Regions from separate parts of the Homo sapiens genome. Here region 2 is linked to region 1. Evidence: fine-mapped expression QTL. A gene starts in region 1. The other region holds a variant in brackets. All regions are shown on one strand. Distances are between the middles of the regions. Region 1 holds the start of MAD2L2 (mitotic arrest deficient 2 like 2). Region 2 overlaps DRAXIN (dorsal inhibitory axon guidance protein).

Region 1 (9,154 bases):
TCTCTACTAAAAATACAAAAATTAGCCGGGCATGGTGGCAGGCACCTTAGTCCCAGCTACTTGGCAGGCTAAGGCAAAAGAATCGCTTGAACCCGGGAGGCGGAGGTTGCAGTGAGCCGAGATCACGCCACTGCACTGCAACATGGGCAACAGAGCGAGACTCCATCTCAAAAAAAAAAAAAAAAACCAGAGGCTAAGAACTGTGAACTTATCCATAGAGAAAGAAGTTAGAAGATAAGAACTCAGGCTGGGCACAGTGGCTCACTCCTCTAATCCCAGCACTTTGAGAGGATGAGGTGGGTGGATCACCTGAGGTCAGGAGTTTGAGACCAGCCTGGCCAAAATGGCAAAACCCCATCTCTACTAAAAATACAAAAATTAGCCAGGTGAGGTGGCACCTGTAATCCCAGCTACTTGGGAGGCTGAGGCAGGAGAATCACTTGAACCTGGGAGGCGGAGGTTGCAGTGAGCTGAGATCAAGCCACTGCACTCCAGCTTGGGCAACAAAGCAAGACTCCATCTCAAAGGAAAAGAAAGATAAGAACTCAATCCCAATATGAGCATTTAATATACCATTAGGGGTTCTTAATGTGGGGTCCATGGACTCCTCCAGAGTCTGAAAAATCCCTAAAGTTGTATCTTTGTGCACTTGGGCATTTTTCCAGAAAAAGGATCCAGGAAAATGTAATCAGATGTCAAAAGTTAAGAACTAAGGAACTGTGTGGCCTCAGGCAAATTCCTTAACTTCTCTGGGCTTCAATCACTTCATCATAAAGAAGAAGTGAGTAAATGTCAATTGTTTTTTCCTTTCCCCTCTAAAGGTGACCTTCAACTTACTATGGGTTTATGTTTGGATAAACCAATCAAATATCGCCAGCGGAAAATGCAGTTAATACACATAACATACAGAACATCATAGCTTAGCCAGGCCTACCTAAACACACTCAAAACACATTAGCCCACAGTTGGGCAACATTATCTAACACAAAACCTGTTTCATAATAAAGTGCTCACGCCTGTAATCCCAGCACTTTGGGAGGCCAAGGCAGGTGGATCACCAGAGGTCAGGAGATCGAGACCAGCCTGGCCAACACGGCGAAACCTTGTCTCTACTAAAAATACAAAAATTAGCCAGATGTGGTGGCACACGCCTGTAATCCCAGCTACTCGGGAGGCTGAGGCAGGAGAATCACTTGAACCCAGGAGGTGGAGGTTGCAGTGAGCCAAGATCACGCCACTGCACTCCAGCCAGGGCGACAGAGCGAGACTCAGTCTCAAAAAATAAAATAAAATAAAATATAAAATAAAAAATAAAGTGCTGACTACCTCAAGTAATGTCTTGAATACCATACTGGAAGTGAGAAAACAATGGTGGTGTGGGGACTTGAAGCGGGGACCACCTGGATGTCCTTTGAGCTTCTACCACTTATTCTCATGTTTCCTGAGTGCCTTCCAGAGACAGGCACTTCTAGGGACTGGAGCTACAGTGCGATGCACACTGCTTTGTCTGCCTTTTAGCCTTAACCCATTGAGTTTAGGATAAATGGTAGGGAGAAGATTTGGAGGTTTTTGGAAATACCCTCCTCACACCAAGGTTCACCAGCTTCACGAGCTCCTTCAAAGTGCCACCATGCCCCCAGGGTAACTTTTTTTTTTGGAGACATAGTCTTGCTCTGTCGCCCAGGCTGGAGTGCAGTGGCACGATCTGGGCTTACTTCAACCTCTGCATCCCGGGTTCAAGCGAGTCTCCTGCCTCAGCCTCCCTAGTAACTGGGATTACAGGCGCGTACCACCACACCAGGCTAATTTTTGTATTTTTAGTAGAGACAGGATCTCATCATGTTGGTCAGGCTGGTTTCTTGAACTCCTGACCTTGTGATTCGCCCGCCTCAGCCTCCCAAAGTGCTGGGATTACAGGTGTGAGCCACCATGCCCGGCCACCCCCGGGGTAACTCTTATCAGGCCTGGTCCCTAACTTCTGGCAAGGGGAACTCTCTTCTGAGGGGTGGGTAGGCATCACCACTTTGGAACTGGAAGGCATTGGAAGGCATGGGCAGGGCCCTGCGGAATGAGGTGGCTTGGCCCGAAGTGGAAGAGGTTTTTTTTTTTTTTTTTTTTTTTTTTTGAGACGGAGTTTCGCTCTTGTCACCCAGGCTGGAATGCAGTGGCACAATTTCGGCTCACTGCAACCTCCGCCTCCTGGGTTCAAGGGATTCTCCTGCCTCAGCCTCCTGAGTAGCTGGGATTACAGGCCTTGGCCACCACGCCCGGCTAATTTTTGTATTTTTAGTAGAGACGGGGTTTCACCATGTTTGTCAGGCTGGTCTCGAACTCCTGACCTCAGGTGATCCGCCCGCCTCGGCCTCCCAAAGTGCTAGGATTACAGGCGTGAGCCACGGCGCCCGACCAAAGAATTTTTAAAAGTCCACCCTGTACCCACTCTGTGGTTCTGGGACGTGCCTCACCTGGACCGGCACGTTGTACTTCTTGCGTTTCTGGAAGATGCCCACGGGGTAGACCTCGCGCACGTAGAGGATGAGATGCACAGCCACCTCCAGGAACTCGCAGAGCACATCGGCCACCACTGCAGGGGGGCACAAGCCGGTGGCGCGCTCGAGGAAGCCCGCCGGCCCAGACGCCCCCGCCCCCGGGCCCGCAGGTCCAGCCTCCCTACCTTGGCCAAAGTTGAGGTCTTGTCGTGTGAGCGTGGTCATCCTTCCCGCTACCTGAGTGTTGGGGCAAGGGCAGAGGGTAGTTCCAGAGACCCAGGAGCCCAGAACCCGCTCGCTTCCACCGTCTCTTCCCTCCCCACAGTCTGTGGGAACTGGGGAAGGACCTCCCGCTTCGCACAGGCTCAGGGCAGCTGGAAGAACCTCCACCCCCACGCTGGCGTCCGTGCTTGGGGGCATCAGCCTCTATCCACTGGCCGCCCGCGCCCCCTCGCCCCGCTGTCTCGCGGGGTGGAAAGACCACAGCTGTGCCCCCGAAAAGGGCAGGGCCGCGGACGCAGAGGGAAACAGCGGGATGCCCAGGGCCGGGAGCGCAAAGCGGGACATGCGGAAAGCGAAGCGGGGTTGGAATAAGACTCCGCCCCCTGCTACGCCGGATCCCTCCCGGCGGGAATCCCGCCCCCTCTCCCCTCCCCCAGTACCGGCTCTGCGCTCGGTTCCCGCCCGAGATCGGGCCCGGCCCCGCCGCGGGGAGCCACCGACCGGACCGATCGCGCCTCCCGCTCAACCCGGGGCCTCGGCGCCGCTCGGTGACGTTCACGGCGCTCCGGTGGGTCCTAGCGCCCGCCCCGCCCAGGCCACGCCCATTCCCGCACGGCCCAAACCGGGCCTCGCAGAGGGCGGTTCCGCATGCGGGGGCGGGTCTCCGAGGGGCGGGGGCCGGGCCTCGGCGTCCGGGAGGGGCTGAGACCCGCCGCGCCACCTCCCTTCAACTTCGGGTGGGCGCGAAGAAAACACAACGTTGATCTCCACGTTCCATTGGATCGCTACATATCTTCCCCCGAGGGCATTTCTCTCGCTTTAGCAGGCGCCGGAAGAGGGCTGGGGAGGGACGGGGGAGCGCGCAGCTGGGGACTAACGGCAGCCACATCTGAGCTAGCCCGAGTCACCATCCCTGCAGCTGCCCACGCAAAAGCGAATCCTCTGGCTCGGGGGCGGGAACAGGGGAGGACAGGATTGTACCGGTTGTCAAGGCCCGGGTGAAATTTTAAAAATAAAAAAAAGAGGGCGTGCACCGGCGTCGCCCCTGCTCCGCCCCCACCGGGTACCTAAATGCAGCCTGGCCTGACCGCCCAAGAGGATGAACCCTCCCCGCCCTACGCTTCATAACAATAGCTGACCTTTTTGGAGCTCCAGCCGAGTGCTGGGCACTGGGCTAAGTGTGTCCGTGGATTATCTCAGTCCTGGGAGTAACTCCATGAGGCAGTTACTGTGACTGTTCTCTTTATACAGATAAGTCAAGCGAGGTGCAGAAGGGTGAATAACCTGCCCGAGTCTCCCAGCTGGTGGGGTGGGCGATGGCCGAGGTGCCTCCTGCCACTACATTTTACTGCTCCCAAGTCCCCCAGGGGCGTGGACTCGGTCTGGAAGTCCTGTAAGGGCCCTCAGAGATGATATTACTAAAATAATAAAAAATAATGACTAACATCGAGCACTTCTTATGTGTCAAACACTGATTCCGTTAATTCTCTCATTAACCCTAGCAGCTAAGTCTCCATTTTATAGCCCCACTTTACAGATGGTTAAACAGGCCCAGAAACGTTCTCTAATTCGCCAAAATCACACAGTGGGAATACAAACCCAGCTCTGATGCCTCTTCTGACACCAGGGCTTCCACTTATTTACAGCCCCCTTATTTTACAAGTGAGAAAACTAAGATCTGAGAAGCAGCTACGGAGTTAGTGGGCAACAAGTCAGGACCAGAAGCCAAGAGGACTTTGTCTGTGACCTCCAGGGACGTAAGAGCTTGTTAGTCCCATCCGTCTGTTTGGACACAGATCTAGCCAGACTTGTTTATCGTTTACAGCTCATTATAGAAGACCTGGATCCCTCCCCCCGCCCCCTGATGCCTTCAAACCTGCATTTCCAGACTTCTAATGGGGAGAGAAAAAGTAACCTGTAAGTAACCCATTAAGCTAGGAATGTCAGCAAAACATTTCTTCAAATGCAGTCCTAGGAAATCTGCATCAGAATCCCCCAGGAGCCCATTAATCACAGCTGCCCTGCTGCCTAGAGCAACCTGATCGAGGTGGGGTGCACAGCAGGGCACTGGCCCTTTAACAAGCTCCCCAGGGGCCCGGATGCCCAGCAAAGTGTGGGAATCACCACAGAGGTTTGGACTGTTCCCAGAGAATATCTTCATTTTGTAAAAATGCGATGCATTTTGTAAAATTGTGATGTAAAATCATCCATCCAAAGGGATGGATGATTTTGTTTTAGGAACTGGTGCACTTGGCAGCACATTCTGGGCACAGCAACCATTCTCAAGATATGGGGATCCTGCACACATCATGCCATTTCCACACAGAGCTGGCCAAGCAACTCACTGGCTTATACACAGAGTTCCGTGGCTCCTTGAGACTGACTCATTGCAGAACTTGGGAAAAGCAAGGGTCTTTCCTTTCCCTCTCTGGAGGCTGCTTAAGCAGCTTTTGCATTGGTGACAGGCAGTGGCAGTCATAGGGGGCAACTCCTTGCAAAGGAGCCCTTCAGACTGGGGCCTGGGGTGGGGAAACTGAGAGCCAAGTGACTCCTGTGGGATGGCCTTCAGGACACAGTGTGAGGGGCATTGGGGCTCAAGTCAGGCCCTCCCTCCATGAGCTCCCAGCCCCAGCCCTCTGCCCTGAGAAAACACAATACGAGCCACCCGTAGAACTCCTGACACACAGAGCTAAGAACGTCAGAAAAACCTTGGAGGACATAAACTCAACTGTCATTTTTCCTTGGGGAAACTGAGGTCCCAACAGCTCTTGACACTGGAGTACCCACCCTGTCAACTAGAAACCTGTGGATAAAAATATCTGGGTTTGCAAATATCATATGTTCTCACTTGTAAGTGGGAGTTAACCTATGAGGATGCAAAGGCATAGGAATGATATATTGGACTTTGGGGACTCGGGGGGAAGGAAGGGTGGGAAGGTGAGGGAAGGGTGGGAAGGTGAGGGACAAAAGACTACATACTGGGTACAGTGTACACTGCTGAGGTGATGGATGCACCAAAATCTCAGCAGTCACCACTAAATAACTTACCCATGTAACCAAAAATTATTGCAATTAAAAAAAAACGTCAGCTGGGCACGGTGGGTGGCTCACGCCTGTAATCCCAGCACTTTGGGAGGCTGAGGCTGGTGGATCACCTGAGGTCAGGAGTTTGAGATCAACCTGACCAACATGGAGAAACCCCATCTCTACTAAAAATACAAAATTAGCCAGGTGTGGTGGCGCATGCCTGTAATCCCAGCTACTCAGGAGGCTGAGGCAGGACAGTCACTTGAACCCGGGAGGCGGAGGTTGTGGTGAGCCAAGATCGCACCATTGCACTCCAGCCTGGGCAACAAGAGCGAGAACTCCATCTCAAAAAAACAAAAAAAGTCTGGGTTTGGGGCCTTGGGTTCAGATCCAATCACAAACAGAAGGAAGGTGGGTTAGGAAGCAGATGGGGAGGGATTCAAACCCATCTGACCCCAAACCCCTAAAAGGCTTCAGTCTCATTAGTGAAATGAACAGGCCAGATAGATGTTCCCTAAACCTCTGATGGCCTCAGGTTCCATGGGGGCGGGGGCAGGGGCAGGGGGCCGAGTCAGCATGGGCCCATCCGGGGAGCTCTGCCAACACTCCATCCATGCGCTCTTCAGCATCTGGTTTTGCATATCTTAATCGCATCAGCATGATGGATGGTTGTGGGATCCAGATTACATTATGGGGTTAATTTATTACATTTTTGAACATCCGTCTGCTGGGAGACTGTTGTTCAAAGTTATTTGCATATTTTTCACCATAATGACAATATGTAGGAGGGCGGCTGGGAAGGAAGGATGGGTGTTTAGGGGGAGCAAGAGTTTATTTGCCAACTAGAGCAGGTCCCTGAGGATCTCTGATGGGGACGGAGGGAAAATCACTCCCAAGAGACACTGAAATGGAAACTGAGAAGGTGAGCTGTGAGCACCAGCCCAGCAAAGAGGAAGACCTGCTCGGGCAGAGGAGGACTGCTGGGGTTTATGGAACAAACCCACAGTGAGTGAACCGGGCAATGAAGTTTCCAGACCCCAGAAATGATTCCAAGACCCCTCCCATCCCCACCAGGCTGATGGCAGAATGAATCAGCTCTCCCACCCTGCCTAAGGTTCCCAGGACACCAATCACATGGGTATGGGGGACATACAGAGTGAGACACACATAGCCTGGTGACAATCTCCTGATATCCTGACGCTCAGGGGCCCATCCAGTTGCAATGCTCCGGGGCAGGGACCCAGCCCTCATTCATTATTTCAATATAGTGCCTGGCCAAATTCAGGTTCTCTCTCTCTCTCTCTTTTTTTTTTTTTCCCAGAGACAGGGTCTCTCCTTGTCACCCAGGCTAGAGTGCAGTGGGGCAATCATAGCTCACTGCAGCCTGAAACTCCTGGGCTCAAGGGATCCTCCTACCTCAGCCTCTTGAGTAGCTAGGATTACAGGTGTGCACCACCACACCTGGCTGATTTTTCAAATTTTTTGCAGAGGCAGGGTCTCCCCATGTTGCCTAGGCTGGTCTCGAACTCCTGGGCTCAAGTGATCCTCCTGCCTCTCACCCTCGCAAAATGCTGAGATTACAGGCTTGAGCCACCATGCCCAGCCCGAATTCAGGTTCTCAGCAAATGTGTGTCAAATGAGTGAATGAAAGAATGAATGGCAGAGGAATGAAGTGATGGTGGACAGTGGCTCATTACCACTTGCCTGACTTGAATCCCAACTGAGTCTGGATGAGGAGCAAAACACGTCGACTTCAGTGCCCGGGCTATGGGTGGCACTATGCAGAGAAAAGCTATTTTCAAAAACAAAAGCAAGGGCTGTGGCATGTTCCCTATGGTGTCCCCAGCACCCACTGGGCCTGCTCATGTGTCCAACCTGCTGCTTCTCTCCCCAACACTGCCCCTTAACCAGCTGCGAGGCCCTTCTTTCTCTGAACCTCAGTTTGCTCATCTGTAAAATGGCATAATGGTAGTTCTAATTTCATAGGATTGAGCAAAGAGCAAATGTTTATGTCCATGTTCATGTTTATAAAAAATATAAAGTGCACAATGCCAGGCATGGTGGCTCACGCCTATAATCCCAGCTTTTTGGGAGGCCAAGGTGGACGGACCACTTGAGCTCAGGACTTCGAGACCAGCCTGGGCAACATGGCAAAAACTCTACAAAAAATATAAAAATTAGCTGAGCATGGTGGCGTGCACCTGTATTCCCAGCTACTTAGGGGGCTGAGGTGGGAGGATCACTTGAGCCCAGGAAATCAACGCTGCAGTGAGCCATGTTTGTACCACTGCACTCCAACCTGGGTTATAAAGTGAGACCCTGTCTCAAAAAATAAACAAATAAATAAAGTGCACAATGCCTGGCACATAAATGCTCAATTAATGACTGTTATGACAATGATATTAAGGTCTATATACACTATTTAAGCCCCCAGAACAAACCCTCTGGACAAGCTGTCACACTTTTCAAAACCCCATCCAAACCATCCTTAGCGGCATCCCCATAGCTCCATTTCCATTTCCCAAGGCAGCAGGCAACTCCCAAGGTGCCCTAGGGAGGACACGCATCATCACGGAACAAGATGCCTAAAGACAAGGACTTCCTGCTGACAGCTCCTCTCCGCTCTCATCTGCCTTCTGGTGTGAGGCCTGACCTGGACAGCTGTCCCAGATCCCAGGGTTCACTGCTGACCTGAGATGGCTTCCGACACTTCAGCCAGAGCAAAGCCCTCACCTGCCATTCCCTCCGTGGGGTTCTACTGATTCCCAGTGTTGCTGACCCCTCAGTGGTCAGGGGGACCTTACTGATCATCTGCTCTTTTTTCATAGAGACAGGGTCTCGCTGTGTTACCCAGGCTGGTCTTGAACATTTGGCCTCCAGAGTTCCTGCTTCAGCCTCCCAAAGCTCTGGGATTACTGGCATAAGCCACCGCGCCTAGCTAATTTTTTTGTACTTTTAGTACAGACGGGGTTTCGCCATGTTGGCCAGGCTGGCCTCGAACTCCTGACCCCAAGTGATGTGCCCGCCTCCACCTGCCAAAGTGTTGGGATTACAGGCTTGAGCCACTGCGCCCGGCCCAGAGACACTAAATGCCTTACACAACATCAGGAGTGTCCAGATATATTCAGAAGCCATCCTGGGCCACAAGGTAAGAACTTTTGATCCAGCTCAACTGCCACTTTAAAAAAAAAAAAAAAAAAAAAAAACTTCTCTGTGGAGATATAATTCACAAACCATAAAGTTCACATTTTCCCTGGGTACAATTCAGTGATTTTTAGTATAGTTACAATGTTGTACATCGCTACTCTCTAATTCGGAACATTTTCATCACTCCTGATGTCTTGAGAAGGGTTGTTCATGCCCAAAGTGTGTTGCCAGGTACATCAGTTCCAAAACTACTAATCTACTTTCTGTTC
Region 2 (9,154 bases), 37 kb after region 1:
TGGTTTTGGGGATCCTGAGGCCCCTCCCAGCTCTGAGCTGACTCCACACCTGGCAGCCCCCAGCTGTTCTACTGGCTCTGTCTGGGAGGAGACCTCACACCACCTTCGCTCTTCCCATGGTCAATCAGTACCCCATCTGAGGCAGCTGGGGTCTCTGCCACCGACCCTTGGGGGCCTCGGCCATGACATCTCCCTGTGGTTCCACTCAGGAGCCTTGCACACCAGATGGCCCACCCCGCCAGGGCGCGGCCTGCCACAGAGATGATGGATCTCTTGTCCAGTGGGACCGAGTGCAGGGCTGCGGGGAGGGGCGGCTCAGCTTGGCTGACTGCGTGTGCTCTCTGTGTTGGCAGGGACTTGCTGCGACCTGCGGGAGCATCTCTGCACACCCCACAACCGAGGCCTCAACAACAAATGCTTCGATGACTGCATGTGTGTGGAAGGTGGGTCCAGACTCCTTTGCGGGGGGCTACCCATGCTCTGAGAACCACAAAGCCTCCCTTTCTCGAAGCGGCTTCTGCACCGAGTGGGGAACAAGCTTTCCTGGCAGAGGGTGGATCATGGGCCTGCGGCGGGGGTGTAGGTGGGAGAATCCCTCGGGAGCCGAAGACGTGAGCAAGAACAGCTTTATCAGTGCCTTCCCAATCTGTGAACTCATTTAGTCCTGATTCTTGGCATCATTTCTGAGATTTGCTTTTCTCAACTTTTGAAATACAAGCTGGCACAATCTCCCACTATCTGGAAGAGGGAGAAGGGAGGAGACAGGAGCACATCTCTTTAAATTAGATCCAGCCTCAGAAGGCTGCCGCTTTCACACCAGAATTCTATCCCAGAGGAGGCATTGAAGTGTGATAATGGGGTGGGGGTGGGTTTCCCAGCATGTCCCAGGGAAGGATGCACTTGCCCAGCTGCCTCTTCAACTCCTCCGTGCCCCCACCTCGCCTAAGTGTGCTGGGCTCTGTGCTGAGCACTTTTCTACTGAAATCCCCATGACCACCCCTAGAAAGGAGCTATGATGATCCGCACTGTACAAATAAGCCAACTGGGGCACAGAAAGCTTAATGATGCCCAAACTTACACAGCCAGGAAAGTGGGGGGAATAGTTTCAGGTTTTTGTTTTGTTTTGACAGGTTTTACTCTGTCACCCAGGCTGGAGTGCAGCAGTGCAGTTTTGGCTCACTGCAACCTCTGCTTCCCAGGCTTAGGTGATCCTCCCATCCCAGCCCTGCAGGTAGCTCTGACTACAGGCGCATGCCACCAGCCCAGCTAATTTTTGTATTTCTGGTAGAGGCAGAGTTTTGCCATGTTCCCTAGGCTGGTTTCAAACTCCTGACCTCAAGCGATCCACCTGTCTTGGCCTCCCAAAGTTCTGGGATTACAGGCATGAGCCACCACACCCAGCCAGTTTCAATTTTGTATTCTGCAAAGTTTCAAATATATACTAAAGTAGTTAGAATAGTCTAATGAGCGCCCATTTCTCATCACTCTGCTTCAATACCAACTCACGGCCAATCTGTGTCTATCATCTCTCACACACTTTCCTTATTCCGACATGATTTCTAAGCAACTCCTGGGAGCTTACAGGTATTTCACCTGTGAATATTTTAGTGTGTACCTCTGAAAGACAAGTACTCTTTTAAAAACAAAATGCCAAACATGAACGATAATTAATCAGTTCCATCCAATATCAAATCAGCATTCACACATCTCCTGGATGGGGGAATTGGGGCTCAGCCCCTCTGTGGACCTGAGATACATGCCCCGTTTTGCTCATATTAGCCTCAGAGAGTTATCTACCATGATCGTGCCACTGCACTCCGGCCTGGATGATGGAGCGAGACCCTGTCTTAAAAATGATGATAATACATCTTTTTCTTCCCAATTTTTAAAATTGTGGACTTTTAAATTTAATTTAATTATTTTTTGAGACAGGGTTTCACTCTGTCACCCAGGCTGGAGTGCAGTGGCGCAATCCCAGCTCTCTGTAGCTTTAACTCCCGGGCTCAAGGGATCCTCCCGCCTCGGCAATAAAGCTATGTAGTTCTGATTATTCACTCATCTAATCAGTTAAATATTTAGGGAGCACCTACTGCGTATCAGACATTGCTCTGGACACTGGGGGGTTCAGTAGTGAAAAGAACCAGCAAGTTCTGTGCCCATGAATTACATTCTAGTGATATGAGCAGACAACAATCAAATACATAGATAGTATGTCTTTAGAAAATAATAAGGGCTATGGCCGAGCATGGTGGCTCATGCCTGTAATCCTAGCACTTTGGGAGGCCGAGGCAGGAGGATCACTTGAGGTCAGGAGTGAGACCAGCCTGGCCAACATGGTGAAACCCTGTCTCTACTAAAAATACAAAAATTAGATGGGCATGGTGGCACTTGCCTGTAATTCCAGCTACTCGGGAGCCTGAGGCATGAGAATCGCTTGAACCCGGGAGGCAGAGATTGCAGTGAGCCGAGATCCTGCCATTGCACTCCAGCCTGGGTGACTGAGTGAGACTCTGTCTCAAAAAGAAAAAAAAAGTAAGTAATAAGGGCTATAAAGATAATAATATGATAATGAGTCCTACAGTTGTTTTAGAAAGGGTAGACAGAAGTGGGCATTGGAGGCCAGGGGAGTGGTTCATGCCTGTAATCTCAGCACTTTGGGAGGCCAAGGCGGGCAGATCATGAGGTCAGGAGTTTGAGACCAGCCTGACCAACATGGTGAAATCCCATCTCTACTAAAAATACAAAAATTAGCCGGGTGTGGTGACGCGCACCTGTAATCCCAGCTACTCAGGAGGCTGAGGCAGGAGAATCTCTTGAAACCAGGAGGCGGAGGTTGCAGTGAGCTGAGATCGTGCCTCTGCACTCCAGCCTGGGCAACAGAGAGAGACTCCGTCTCAAAAAAAAAAAAAGAAAGGGTAGACAGAAGTGGGCATTGGAGGCCAGGCGGGGTGGTTCATGCCTGTAATCCCAGCATTTTGGGAGGCCAAGGCAGGTGGATCCTTGAGCCCGGAGTTGGAGACCAGCCTTGGCAAGGTAGAGAGACACTGTCTCTACCAAAAATACAAAAAAAAAAAAAAAAATTAGCCGGGTGTGGTGGCGCACACCCATAGTACCAGCTACTTGGGAGGCTGAAGTGGGGAGGATCACTTGAGCCCAGGAGGCAGAGATTGCAGTGAGCCGAGATCTTGCCATGCCACTGCACTCCAGTCCAGGCAACAGAGCAAGACCCTGTCTCAAAAAAAAAAAAAAAAAGGGAGGCCCGGCACGGTGGCTCATGCCTGTAATCCCATCACTTTGGGAGGCGGAGGTGGGCAGATCACTTGAGGCCAGGAGTTCAAGACCAGCCTGGCCAACATGGTGAAACCCCATCTCTGCTAAAAAAAAAAAAAAAAAATACAAAATTAGCTGGGTGTGGTGGCGCATGCCTGTAATCCCAGCTACTCGAGAGGCTGAGGCAGGAGAATCACTTGAACCCAGGAGGCAGAGGTTTCATAAGCCAAGATGGTGCCGCTGCACTCCAGCCTGGGTGACAAGAGCAAAACTCCATCTCAAAAAAAAAAAAAAAAAAAGCAATGGCTCTCCATAGGATGTTTTACAGGGAAGGGCAGAATTTGAGCCACTTAAAAAAAAATTTAATAACCTTTTTCCTTTCCAATTTTCAAGATTATAGACTTTTTAATTGAATTTATCTGTGTATTTTATTTTTTAATTTTTTTGAGACAGAGTCTCACTCTGTTACCCAGGCTGAACTACAGTGGTGCAACCAAGGCGCACTGCAGCCTGGAACTCCTGGGCTCAAAGGATCCTCTCATGTTAGCCCCTCCTTCCTATAGTTGGGACTACAGGTGTATGCCACAATGCCTGGCTAATTTTTACATTTTTTGTAGAGATAGGGTCTCCCTATGTTGCTTAGGCTGGTCTGGAACTACTGGGCTCAAGCGATCCTCCCACCTCAGCCTCTCAAAGTGCTGGGATTACGGGTGTGAGCCACCGTACCCTGTGGACTTTATTTTTAGAGCAGTTTTCTAGAAAAATTTCACAGAATGTGGTTCTCATATACCTGCTTTGCCCCTGCATGCAGTTTCTCCTATTAATAACATCTTGCAATCATGTGGTAGATTTGTTTGTTTGTTTGTTTGTTTGTTTGTTTTCTGAGAGGGAGTCTAGCTCTGTCGCCCCAGCTGGAGTGCAGTGGCATGATCTTGGCTCACTGCAAGCTCCACCTCCCGGGTTCATGTGATTCTCCTGCCTCAGCCTCCCAAGTAACGGGGATTACAGGCACCCACCACCATGCCCGGGTAGTTTTTGTATTTTTTTAAGTAGAGACGGGGTTTCACCATGTTGGCCAGGCTGGTCTCAAACTCCTGACCTCAAGTGATCCACCTGCCTCGGCCTTACAAAGCGCTGGGATTATAGGCGTGAGCCACCGTGCCCGGCCTCTCTTGGTACATTTGTTGCTTGACAAACCAATAGTGATGTATTATTATTACTAACTGAAGTCAACGTAAGTTATAGTTCACTGTGCGGTGCATTCTGTGGGTTTTGACAAATGCATGCCATGTCCCACCATTACGTGTCACACAGAATATGTTCACCGCCCCGACCGCCCTGAGTCTTCTCTGTTCTCCTTCCGTGTTCATTCCTCCCCTCTTCCGGGTTCGTGTCTTTTAAGCTCATTGGGGCTGCCGTGAGGAAGCTGGGTTGTAGGGCAGAATAATGAAGGCAGGAGGGAGCTGGCTGGCCCCGAGCGTGCAGGGGAAGGAAGGGGAGGGCACGGGCCCTTCGCGCCTCTGACCCCCCTTGCCTCCACTCGCCCAGGGCTGCGCTGCTATGCCAAATTCCACCGGAACCGCAGGGTTACACGGAGGAAAGGGCGCTGTGTGGAGCCCGAGACGGCCAACGGCGACCAGGGATCCTTCATCAACGTCTAGCGGCCCCG[C/T]GGGACTGGGGACTGAGCCCAGGAGGTTTGCACAAGCCGGGCGATTTGTTTGTAACTAGCAGTGGGAGATCAAGTTGGGGAACAGATGGCTGAGGCTGCAGACTCAGGCCCAGGACACTCAACCCCAGGAGGGGAGCCGCTCGGCGAATGAGCTGGGTGGGTGCCCAGGAGCCGGCCCGCAGCACCTGCACACACGAAGTCCGGACCCACGCAGCCTCCATCCCGCGTGTCTTGCTCTCCGCGATGGCAATGCCGAGAGTGCCCTCTACTGTCCGACTCCAGCACTGCAACAGCTTCAAGTTCAAAACCAAGAGGCGTTTTTGAGAGTGGAAAAGAAATTTAAACTTCCCGAAAGAAGGTCCACCATCAGGAGATGAATATGGAACATCTCCTATGTACCAGGCACTGTGCTAAGTGCTGGAATACATTATCTCATTGAATTATCACAACGACCTTTTCAAGTAGGCATTATCACCATGCGACAGGTTGAGGACCGTGAGGCACGCTGGAGTTATTTGACTCGACTTGCCCAGGGTCCCAGGTCAGTGCTCCTCAAACCTGAACATGCTAAGAGTCACCTGGAGGTCCAGTTAAAAATGTACATCTGGCCGGGCGCGGCGGCTCACGCTTGTAATCCCAGCACTTTGGGAGGCCAAGGCGGGTGGCTCACCTGAGGTCAGGAGTTCGAGACCAGCCTGGCCAACATGGGGAAACCCCGTCTCTATTAAAAATACAAAAATTAGGCCAGGCGCGGTGGTGCACACCTGTAATCCCAGCTACTCGGAGGCTGAGGCACCAGAATCGCTTGAACTTGGGAGGCAGAGGTTGCAGTGAGCAGAGATCGTGCCACTGCACTCCAGCCTGGGGGACAAGAGTGAAACTCCATCTCAAAAAAAAAAAAAAAAAAAAGCACATCTGACTCAGTGGGCTCTGTGCTCTAACAAGCTCCCAGGGAACGCGAGGCTGCTGGCCCAGGGACCCACTGAGAGGTCCTGGGAAGTACATGGCAGAGCAAGGACATGAACCTGGGCCAAGGCTGTCCAGCTCCAAGGCCCACGTTCTTGCTGCTCCACAGCCAAGAATTTCTTCCAGATTCTCTAAGGCTTTTGGCAAGAGAGGCTCACACCCTGGTATTCCCTTCCTCTGTGGCTGGAATAACTTGACTGTTCTCTGCCTTCCCTGGATAAAGGTGTATCATGTTTAAAAACAAAACAAAATACAACTTAAGCACATACTTGCTTGCAGGAATAAGTTGGGCAGGTTGATCCCTGTGGTCTAGTAGCTGATATCCTGGGATAAGAAGTGTTTGGGGAAAAGAATCATGTTGGCCTTTATGTCCCTGTGGTCCTGATCATCCAGTCCTGGACAGGCACTTTACAGTTTTCTGGAGCACTTCCCCCCCAGGGGTTCTGATGCAAGCATGGAATCCAAAAAAACCCCACACATATTGCCCATGTTTACCCACTTTGCATACTGTTTAGTGATTTCCAGGACCACAAAACCATCCCTGGAACCCCACCCCACATTTTTGCAGCAGAGCCCACTGGGAAGTTGAGGCTCACCTGAAATTGAGGTGCTATCTGAAGCTAACTGCCCCTAACAGGCCAGACTCACAATGCCCACCCAGGACATCTGTCCCAGCAGATCTGGCTTCAGGGGTCACTTCAGGAGAACCATTTAAATCCCCCCACTTGGCATCTCACTCCTGGCCAACCCTCTGTTCCAGGGCGAACCAGGTTGCAAATGACAAAAGACTTTCCTGGCCAAATTCCTCACTGGCCTGGATCACGCCCATAAGATGCCAGAGATGTTTACTGCGTTGGAAAAATCAGTCGGGGTCAGGGGTCAGGCACCAAGGAAAGCAGGCAGATCTAGAAGAAATTAAATATGCTTGTTCTCTCCCTATCCAAGTTTGATGGGCATGGGAACCTTGTGGGGAGGGAGCAGGGAGGGCAGGGGAACTGGGAGATCAAAGCAGGCTAGCTGAAAGGCAGATATGGCTAGACACAATGGCTCATGCCTGTAATCCCAGCACTTTGGGAGGCTGAGGTGGGCGGACCACCTCAGGTCAGGAGTTTGAGACCAGCCTGGCCAACATGGCAAAACCCGGTCTCTACCAAATATACAAAAATTAAGGCTGGGCACGAGGGCTCATGTCTGACATCCCAGCACTCTGGGAGGCCGAGGTAGGCAGATCACTTGAAGTAAGGCGTTCGAGAACAGCCTGACCAACATGGTGAAACCCCATCTCTACTAAAAATACAAAAATTAGCCAGGCATGGTGGCAGGTGCCTGTAATCCCAGCTACTCAGGAGGCTCAGGCGGGAGAATCACTTGAACCCAGGAGGCGGAGGTTGCGGTGAGCCAAGATCACGCCATTGCACTCCAGCCTGGGCGACAGAGTGAGACTCCAAAAATATAAAACACTTAAAAATGTAAAAAGGCAGATCTGCCAGCAGCTTCGTACTTGAGACCAGACAACCCACACATGCTGTGTGTGCCTCACATTAAGTGGTGACTCGGGACTGTGCTGGCTCTGTGGGGCTAGAACCCTAAGGAGTACCGCCGGAAGAAAGCCCAGCATTACTATGGCTGGGGGACAGCTGTTAGATGGTCCTAGGACATCAGCCATGGAGAACACAGAGGGTCAGGACAAAGCTAAAATGCCCATAGAACTGCCACTGGTTGCCAGGGTAGTTCCATGGTTGGAAATTCAAGGCCCGTCTCTTTGCCCTAGCTATCTCTATTTGACATTTCCAAAGAGGGATGGGTGGATGGAACCTCTTAACTCCAGAGCTGGGAATCCCAAAGCCCTCTCAAGTGTCTAACCAACCTCTCTGCCAGGAAGTTCTTCCTTAGGTCTATCTTAAATTTATTTTGCTCATACAGAAGCCAGTTTCCTCTAATCCAGGGTTTAGCAAACTTTTACTGTGAGGAGCCAAATAAACATTTTAGGATTTGCAAGCCATCTGATCTCCACCAGCTACTCAGCTCTGCCGTAGCTCGAAGCAGCCACAGAGAGTGTGTAAATGAATTCATGGCTATGCTCCAGGAAAACTATTTCTGGACACACATGTGAATTCTGTATACTTTTCACATGTCACAAAATATTATTCTCTCTTTCCTTTTTTTTTTTTTTGGAGATGGAGTTTTGCTCTGCTGCCCAGGCTGGAATGCAGTGGCTCAGTCTCAGCTCACTGCAACCTCTTCATCCCAGGTTCAAGCAATTCTCCTGCCTCAGCCTCCCAAGTAGCTGTGACTACAGGCATGTGCCACCACACCTGGTTAATTTTTGTATTTTTAGTAGAGATAAGGTTTTACCATGTTGGCCAGGCTGGTCTCAAACTTCTGACCTCAGGTGATCCGCCCGCCTCAGCCTCCCAAAATGCTGGGATTACAGGTGTGAGCCACCGCACCTGGCCATAAAATATTATTAGTTTAATTTTCTAAAACCATTTAAAAGTGCAAAAACTGCTCTTTGCTTGCCAACTGCGCAAAACCAGGCAGTGGGGCAGATTTGGCCTGAGGGTCACGGTTTGCCAACCCCTGCTCAAGCCTGCTCACTCTCAACGCTGGCTGCACGTTGCAATAATCCAGGAACATTCACAGGCCTGGGGCCCACCCACAAAGCTTCTGTTTTGTTTGGTCTGGGCTTCATAGTTTTTCTCCCAGGTAACTTCAGGTGCAGCTGGGGCGGAGAGTCTCTGCTCTCCCCTTCCATCTGTAGCAGTGTGGCTGGTGTTAAATCCACCTATTCCACCTCTCACAGCTTTGGCAACCTTAGGAAAGTTTCTTAAGGTCTCTGTGCCTTGATTTTTTCATCTGTAAAATGGGAATAATAACTCTCCCTTCATAGGGTTGTTGTGAGTAGTGAATGCATACTTCTTTTTTTTTTTTTTTCTTTTGAGACAGAGTTTCACTCTTGTTGCCCAGGCTGGAGTGCAGTGGCACGATCTCGGCTCACTGCGACCTCTGCCTCCTGGGTACAAGTGATTCTCCCGCCTCAGCCTCTCGCGTACCTGGGATTATAGGCAAGCATCACCACGCCCGGTTACTGTTTGTATTTTTAGTAGAGATGGGGTTTCACCATGTTGGCCAGGCTGGTCTCAAACTCCTGACCTCAGGTGATCCCCCCGTCTCAGCCTCCCAAAGTGCTGGGATTACAGGCATGAGCCAGCATGCCTGGCCTGTGAACGCAGAATTCTTATAAGGTGT

What was found.
Region 2: its variant is fine-mapped to the expression of MAD2L2 in whole blood (INTERVAL, PIP above 0.99).

What each region holds. Positions count from the first base shown.
Region 1 is chr1:11,677,888-11,687,041 of GRCh38, forward strand. MAD2L2 (mitotic arrest deficient 2 like 2) reads right to left here and starts at 3,261. Exons shown (of 9, transcript NM_006341.4): 1 at 3,152-3,261; 2 at 2,675-2,726; 3 at 2,466-2,584. The coding sequence starts at 2,714. It also overlaps a transcript of DRAXIN not described here. RefSeq lists silencers at 2,583-2,642, 3,083-3,602 and enhancers at 5,226-5,807, 6,757-7,257.
Region 2 is chr1:11,714,766-11,723,919 of GRCh38, forward strand. DRAXIN (dorsal inhibitory axon guidance protein) reads left to right here. Exons shown (of 7, transcript NM_198545.4): 6 at 354-443; 7 at 4,819-9,154. The coding sequence ends at 4,931. Among named protein-coding and RNA genes, the nearest start is that of AGTRAP, 17 kb to the right of the region's middle. RefSeq lists an enhancer at 4,979-5,048. The variant C/T (reference allele first, on the strand shown) is at 4,940.